2 separate regions of the Homo sapiens genome follow, and region 1 is linked to region 2. The links come from fine-mapping of genetic effects on gene expression. A gene starts in region 2. The other region holds a variant in brackets. All regions are shown on one strand. Distances are between the middles of the regions. Region 1 has its middle 21 kb from the start of CD180. Region 2 holds the start of CD180 (CD180 molecule).

Region 1 (4,399 bases), 21 kb before region 2:
ATGTGGAGAAATAGGAACACTTTTACACTGTTGGTGGGACTGTAAACTAGTTCAACCATTGTGGAAGTCAGTGTGGCGATTCCTCAGGGATCTAGAACTAGAAATACCATTTGACCCAGCCATCCCATTACTGGGTATATACCCAAAGGACTATAAATCATGCTGCTATAAAGACACATGCACACGTATGTTTATTGTGGCATTATTCACAATAGCAAAGACTTGGAACCAACCCAAATGCCCAACAATGATAGACTGGATTAAGAAAATGTGGCATATATACACCATGGAATACTATGCAGCCATAAAAAAGGATGAGTTCATGTCCTTTGTAGGGACATGGATGAAATTGGAAATCATCATTCTCAGTAAACTATCGCAAGAACAAAAAACCAAACACCACATATTCTCACTGATAGGTGGGAATTGAACAATGAGAACACATGGACACAGGAAGGGGAACATCACACTCTGGGGCCTGTTGTGGGGTAGGGGGAGGGGGGAGGGATAGCATTGGGAGATATACCTAATGCTAGATGACGAGTTAGTGGGTGCAGCGCACCAGCATGGCACATGTATACATATGTAACTAACCTGCACATTGTGCACATGTACCCTAAAACTTTAATAATAAAAAAAAAATTACAAGTTCTGCCTTTTGGAGGTGGCATGATGTGGGGACATGGGGCAAGACTATCAAGAGGACCAGAGAATTCATGAACTAGAGATAGGAATTAAAGTAGGGAGAAATCACTTCTAAAAATAGTACTAACCCTCCCACAGGGGGCAATGGCAGCTTCCCTTGGCTGTTGAGCACTGAACTGCCAAGCATTTACAAGAAGAAAAGGGGTTGGCTTGAAGACTTCAGGTGAGGCAGCACATCTCAGCTCTAACATGCACATGATTCATGTGGGATCTTGCTAATTCTGGTTCAGAAGGCCTATGATAGCGCAGAAAATTCTAACAAGCTCTTCTCAAATGACTCAGATGCTGCCTGCCTGTTGACCACATGAATGCCCTGCCTGGCCACACCAGGGAGTTAGAATCTCTGAAGATTGGGCCTAGGCATCTATAATTAAAAAATAATAAAATAACTTCCACAGGTGATTCTAATGTGCATGCAAGGTTGAAAAGCAAAAACAAATTTCCCAGGTAGAGGATGATACTTGACTCATTCTACCTCAACATGAAATCATCATGAACAGAACTTGAAGACATTTCCCATATAACTGCTGGTCCAGTTGAGCCCTAAGGACCCTTTCCACTCAAAGTGTGGTCCTCAGACCAGCAACATCTGCATCACCTGGGAGTGTGTTAGGAATGCAGAATCTCAGTCCCCTGACCCCCTGCCTTCCCCATCCCTGGACCTGCTGATTTTCTGCATTTCCATGATAGCCAAGTAATTTGCTTGCCCTTCAAAATTTGAGAAGCATTGTTATCACTACTCCCCAAGCTTCCTAGAAGATGAGAATTACTTGGAATATTTGTTAAAAATACAAGTTTCTAGACCTCATCGCTGATCCACTCACGCAAAAATCTCTAGGACAAGGCCTGAGAAACTGGGTTTATAATCAGTGGACATGAGGGGCAGGTGATTCTTATCTGGGAGGCATGGGCAATAGTAATATAAGAGTATATTTACCATCCGTGCTCAAATTTGTCTCCAGCTAAAGTCTACTACGATGATTATTGGTGTTTTTTAAGCCCTTGGGCATAGAAAACTCAAAAACCATTGAAACCATCAGGAAGACAGCAACCTAAACACTTATTGTCCACCTACTGTGTGTATGTGTGTGTGTATACATATATACCTACTCAGTACTAAGCATGTGTGTATACACGCACACATGTATGTGCTTAGTACTGAGCAAGAAGCTTTTCATCTGCCCTCTGACTTAAACATCAACACAATTCTCAAACCCGGTGGTGCCATTCCCATTTTATAGATGAGAAATCAGGCCCAGCCAGGCTATGTCGTTTGCTTAA[C/T]ATACACCCTGGAAAGAGAGCTTGGATTAGAATCTGAATTTTTCTGGTTCTGAAGCGCTTGACCTTTCTCAGTATTACCAGGTGTCATGTAATTGAATTCAGATTCAGGCCCCTCTCTGAATAATCTAAGCTATCTTATTTCCTCTTTGCATGTAGAAAAATCATATGGTGCTAAATTATGAATTTGATGATTGGTGGGAAACCGTTAAGTGAAGGAAGCTAATCGTTCTCTGTAATAGGGCCTCTTTATCAGTTCTAATTAATCAGTAGACAATTTCTCATCTAGCATTTTCGGTTCACAACACAAATGTAACATGAAAACGTGTAGCTATAGTAACTACAGAAATTTGCTTCCTTCATTCTAGGCCAGGCTTTAAGAAAATCTATGGTAGGGCAGTTCTCTAAATTTCATTTCCCTCCTGCCAGGATGTTTTTATTCCTCAAAGCAATCATTTTGTGTTATTCCTCTCTTTCTCTACCCCCTACATGTCTCATATATCTAGAAAATTTGGAAATGACCAAGGCTTTGCCAAACCTTGGTTTGATTACGTTTTGTATGCTGAAAGCCAATCAGCCTGACCCATGATGAAGTTCTCTGGCAGTTGAGACACCTCAGACCCTGCACTGGAGTCATTAGCACTATTCCTTATAGGAAAACACTCAGCAACATCTCACTGATTTCTGTGACCCAGCATTTCAAAAGACAAGATCACTATCTCTTACAACATCACTGGCTGATGTTGGGGCTGTCAATTCCAATACTTGTAGGCAGGCAAGCACTTGAAAAAGGGGATGGGTCCCAAGAGTGAAGTTCTCTGTACACTCTGTGACATGCCAGTTTAGTATGTCCAGACATGGGAAAAAGATCTGTTGCATATGGTTACAGGTTATCACCCCACACAGCTTGACGAAATGTCTATTGCTCTTGTAAAGCTGAAAGCCTCTAACAAATAGTCATCTGCCATTTCATTAAGCGCTGCCAGGAGATGGCTGTCAACATCTGGGAAAGGAAGAATGAAAAGATGTTTGCAAGGCCTGCAGCAAGCATGTTGCAGCTACAAAGTCTGCATATGTCAGGCTGGCATCACCATATCCTCCAGCCTTAACCTGTCTAAATAAAAATCATTTGCCTTAAAGTTCTGTCCTTTTGGAATACGTATGCTGTGTTAAACAGTGCTGTACTGAAGTAATTTTCCTGAGTTGGAGACATATCTACTCCTGTTGGGGCTGGAGGCAGTTCTGTGGACACCCCATGTAATGCATGTCCTACTGCCCCATTCAAATGGGGATCCTTAGAACAGCTATGGCTCCCTCTGTTCCCTCAAAGCTTGGGCTTTACCATTTGCATTTGAAAACACAAAGACTTAGAAAAACACTGCCTCCTTTTCAGTACCTGTACATTCTCACAACCGATGATCTCTGTTTTTTATCTTTTTAAAAGCAAAAGTCTTCCTTAAAAAATAATTCCTTTTTCTCCTTATTGCCCAGACCTGGTCATTGAAGCCATGTTGGAAATATAGATGAGAAGAAAGTATTTGAATCCCTGAAATCCTACCAGCCACTCTGTTTCTTTAACTTATAGGTATTTTTTTGTTTTGCTGAATAATGAATTAACAGTGGGCATGCTCTTTAGCCCACTCTTCTGCTCTTCCACTTGTGTCACCAAAACACCAGGGGTTTGGTCTAGGTCCTGCTGCTCACTGCACAAAAAGCAAACCACTGAGATGACAGGTGTCACCAAGGAAGAAGGCTTTAATTGAGTGATGCAGCAGAGCAGAAGAAAGCTCAGTCTCAAATCCATCTCCCTGACCAACTAAAACCAAGGGTTTATATAGCACACAAAAAAATGTAACAATGTGTAAGAAAACAGGAACTTGGGAGGGGCAAGGAAGCAATCATAGTGAATGAGGGGTGGGGCATCTGGTGTGGCAATCTGGTTTCAGTTCTTTGATACTTTTTGTGAGAGGCCTGAAGGTCATTTCCTGAGAAAGGAACTCAGATAAAACAGATATGTTTCAAGCTTTTACAGCAGAAGGGTCCATATTTATGTTTATCCAAAAGCAACTGTCTATGAAACTCTTGGGCCAGTGTCACTTGAATATTAAAACAAATATATTTCAATGTTTATAAGCAAACTTCTGCAATATGTATAATGGCTGCATGGTGTCTCATTATACCTTTGAGCCATACCACTTTATTTCCTGTGGTATGCCTTTCTTTCAATAAATGTGTTTCCTTTCTTTCAATAAATCTGTTAGAGAGCCTCAGGTGCAGACCATGGAGGCCATCTTACTCTTCTGTTCCTGGCACATCAACCTTGGCCTATTCTAAGGTTCATTTAATTATCCCAACAGCCCCTTCCATTCTCCACCACCACCCCATAAGCAATTATGTTAATGGTTTATCTTTTTGC
Region 2 (4,398 bases):
CATCCTGCGGCCTCACCCAGAGGTGGACTCAGAACTAAGGACCATTTTCCAAAACCTTATGACTTCTTCCCCAACCAGTCAACATTTGCCATTCCCGTGTACCCTGCCCACCAAACTATCCTTGAAAACTCCTAATCTCCAAGACTTTGGAGTGATTGATTTGAGTAATAACTCTGTCTCCCACCTGGCGTGGCCAGTCTCACATCAATTAAACTTTCTTTACTGCAATGCCGTAGTCTCAGTGGATTGATTTTGTCTGGGCAGTGGGCAGGAAGAACTTGTCAGGCAATTACAGACCTTCCAACCTGAAGGGTGAGGGGACAGCCTTCTGGGGCTGATAGAAATGTCTTACTCTTCTCCTTCTGTTATGGGCTGAATTTTCTCTCCCCCACCACCAAATTCATATGTTGAAGTCCTAACCCACAGGACCTCAGAATGTGACTGTATTTAGAGACAGGGCCTTTAAAGAGGTCATTAAGGGAAGCTGAGGTCATATAGGTGGGCCCTAATCCAATCTGACTGGAGTCCTTAAAAGATGAGGACATTTGGACAAACAAGAAGACACCAGTGCTCATGCACACAGGAAAGGCCATGAGAGGACACAGAGAGAAGATGGCCATCTGCATGCCAGGGAGCGAGGGTGCAGAAGCAGCAAACTCTGCCAACACCTTGATCTTAAAATTCCAGCCTCCAGAACTGTGAGACAATCAATTTCTCTTGTTTAAGTCACCTAGTCTATGGTATTCAGGGTTTTTTTGGTTTGTTTTTGTTTTTTGGTGTATTTTTGGTTTGTTTGTTTTAAGACAGAGTCTTGCTCTGTCGCCAAGGCTGGAGTGCGGTGGCACAATCACGGCTCACTGCAACCTCTGCCTCCCGGGTTTGAGTGAGTCTCCTGCCTCAGCCTCCCGAGTAGTTGGGATTACAGGCATGTGCCACCATGCCCAGCTAATATTTGTATTTTTAGTACAGATGGGGTTTTGCCATGTTGCCCAGACTGGTCTCGAACTCCCAGTCTCAAGGCATACACCCACCTTGGCCTCCCAAAGTGCTGGGATTATAGGCGTGAGCCACCACGCCTGGCCCAGTCTGTGGCATTTGTTATGACAGCCCAAGCAAAGCAACACACACCTTCCCAGCCTTCATTTCTCATTGGCATGATGCCTCCTCTTGGCCTGCTGCTGATTCCATCCTAATGCCAGACCAACAAGGCTCTGCTCACCCAGCTCTGAGCCTTACCCCAGTGCTGGCTTTGCTCTGCTCTTCCTGATCCTCTGATCTCCTTCTAGTCCTGCCCCAGGGCAACTCCACATCTGGCTATTCCTGGCTCTTACTCTTCTTTTTACCTCAACCCAGACCAGCAGCTCACCAAGCCACCAAGACTCATGGTTCCTCCTGTATGCAGCCCTTGTCTGACAGGCCACGTGGTATTGATCACTTGTGGGGTCAGAGAAAGTGGGAGGAAGTTTGAAGCATTTTAGAGGATGGCAAGAGACGGAGGCCCTTCTCCTTTTTCTCTCATTATCCCCTCCAAGAACTTCCCACAGGTTGATAAATATTGCTATGGTCCAAAACAGAAGGTGCAATTTGGCTCTATTCTCAGATTTTCCTCCTATGGGTTAGTAAAACAGATGGAAGGCTGTCCAAGTCCAAGAGAGAGCCAGACTCATTCAGAGTGATCTTTTCAATGCTCGAAAACCTGGCACAGCGCTGTCTTTACTAATTCTCACCCTGAGAGGAGACCAAAGGACTCATTGGGATAGAGGCCATGTGAGAGTGGGGATGTTAAACCAACAGCTCCCCTAGGTTGAGGCAGGTTTAGGGGTCTGCTTTGTGCACACAGACCCTATTAATATCTTATGACCCACTTGGGATTATTTGGGTGGAATTGTTTGAAGAGGAGAAAAATTCTCTTTGCTTCCTATTAAGATGCCACCAGATGATCCCCTGGCAGAGTTCTTTGGCTCCTTTCTCACAATAATGAAAAAATTATATATACACCTTATTTCCTTTTTAAAGACACTAGATATTGGGATGCCAAGGCTCAGATTGGACTGCGTGCTAAATCTCAAAATTTTCAGACAGTTTAATCTGCATAAAGACAAACAGTTTGGACTCACCTCAATGCACATCTGATCCCAGGAGGTGATGACTTTACAGCCGGCAGAAAACAGCACCACCCAAAAGAAGCAGCTGACGTCAAACGCCATCACAGGCTAGGATTGCTTGGTGGGTTTACCTAATGCTTGGAGCTGAGAAATGGAATCAAACTGTGAAGGCCCTGGCAATTTGGCAGCCAGAGAGGTACTCAGAAGGGTGATCTTGGAACAAGAAATGCTGTTGACTGCTCAGCATTCTGTGGCTCTGTGCTGGAAAAAAAAAAAAAAAAAAAAAAGGAAGTCCCTTTTGCATACCACCCATCTTTGCCAAAAATAACTGAGGACCCAACCCCAGAATGGCCCGTTGCATTTCCTGGCACTGAACATGAATCAGTTGTGCAGTCCTTTTGGGCTGATCACACAGACTCTCATTGTGATGGTTCCAATTGACTTTATGCCAACTTCAAGCATTTGGCCAACTCCAACAGCTTCTGGTCCTTTTCCCCGAGAGAGGCTGTGGAAGCTCTACTCACCAAGGAGGCCACTTTCTTAGTTGTCCTAGGTGAGTGAATAGAAGAGGTGTCAGAGAACATGGAAGGGCAGAGCACTCTGCAGGGGCAGACTGAAGAACTGAGCCCTTCAGTGGCACCTGCTGAGCTGGGAACTGGAGCAGGAGGGAGCAGGCTTGAGAGTGTATCTGCTCCTTGAGCCTCAGCTGCTGCCTTGGCCACCTTGTCCATCCCCACCTCTGGTCTTCGTATAGGGGGAAGATTACTTCATCTCTTGACCTGGCGGTTCAGGCTTGTTAAAGCAGTTGGGGTGGACTCTCTTGTTCCCTCCTAACCTGGCCTGGGGAAGTAGGGGACACTGCCATAGATAGAGCAGCCTGGCTAAAGGAGAGTAGAGTTAGGGATGCCAGCCTTGGCTCTATTTCTTCTTAGAAATAGCTTTGAAGCAGGATTACAATTACCCTTATTATGGAGCAAGATGTGGCAATGATTAAAGAAAGCCAAAGTTCAAACATTCCTCAATAGGCTGCATTTAGCTACCTGTTCTGTCTGTTCTTCAACCCTCTGGCATACAGGATATATTTGGTGTTACTGTTCTCCCACTCCATTTCCAAGAGCCCAGTTCTTAGTATCAGAGTTCACAATGACTTAACTACTGCTACTACTACTACTACCACCACCACCACCACCACCACCTCTACAGTATTACTATGATGAATCAAATGACTATAGTATCTGCCATTTATTGAGTCCTTACTATGTGTCAGACACTGGGTCAGGTTTAATGCAGTTTTTTGCTGCATTTTCCTATCCTCGAATATTTCCATATATTCTATAAGAGAGATATTATTATTTCCCTCATTTTATAGATGTAGAAACTGATGCTTAAGAGAAATTAAATGATCTCTCCAAGCCACACAATTAGAGAGTGGTAGATTAGGGCTTCAGATCCAGAAAATCTCACTGCAGAGACTATGCTGCTACTCTTCACAGTTTAAGAAAGGACTTTGCCTCCTGAAGGAGCTGAAGAGTAGATGGGGCGAAGAATGTTGTTCATCTGGAGATTTCAGAAAAGATGCTAAAAAGCAGAGGGGATTGGAGGAAATATGTACTTGGCAGTCTGCTAGGCCTGCTACACATATTTGGGCTTTTCCTGGTCACCCTTAAAATGCCATCTTCATCAACAAAATCATCTCTGAAGATGCTATCAGCAAGACACAGTCTAAGCAAACCCAGACCAATGACGGACCACCTTGCTTCAAATAAGACATCCATCAGTGTATATTAGGAAGAGCTGAGAACTGGGAAGAGTCTAGTGGTAGACCGCAGATCCTTGCTTACCAACTGAGTGACCTTGGGCAAGTCATTTCACTTCTCTAAGTCCGTTTTCCCATCTGAAAAACAAGAATTATAATTCCTCTTCTGCCTACATCACAGAGTAATTATGAGGATCAAATAGGATCATGTATGTGAAAATGCTTTTCTTATCTTAAAGTCCCACATAAATATGCAGAATGTGAGGCAAAGACTGAGTAACGAATTCCAATGTCGTGTAAATATCACTCTCAGGAAATTGTCTCCTGCCCCAGAGATGTTGAAAGGCATATTACTTTCCTTCTTAAAGAAAGGTCTGATGGCTCAGTTAAGGCCATCAGATTTTGTCATTTTCTTAAGCTATATCATTTGCATATGATTTACATGTGTTTGCATAATGAATTCAAAAGACTCACTGCAAGTATATAAGAGTAAAATAAAATGAATGAATATGAGTGACCTTCTGCCACGGTATTCAA

What was found. PIP is the estimated chance that this variant, and not a neighbour inherited with it, causes the effect.
Region 1: its variant is the best candidate, but not a certain one, in a credible set for the expression of CD180 in whole blood (INTERVAL, PIP 0.76).

Annotation. Positions count from the first base shown.
Region 1 is chr5:67,173,234-67,177,632 of GRCh38, forward strand. No RefSeq gene overlaps it. Among named protein-coding and RNA genes, the nearest start is that of CD180, 21 kb to the right of the region's middle. The variant C/T (reference allele first, on the strand shown) is at 1,987.
Region 2 is chr5:67,194,435-67,198,832 of GRCh38, forward strand. It overlaps CD180 (CD180 molecule), which reads right to left and starts at 2,365. Exons shown (of 3, transcript NM_005582.3): 1 at 2,118-2,365. The coding sequence starts at 2,207. RefSeq lists an enhancer at 1,189-1,338.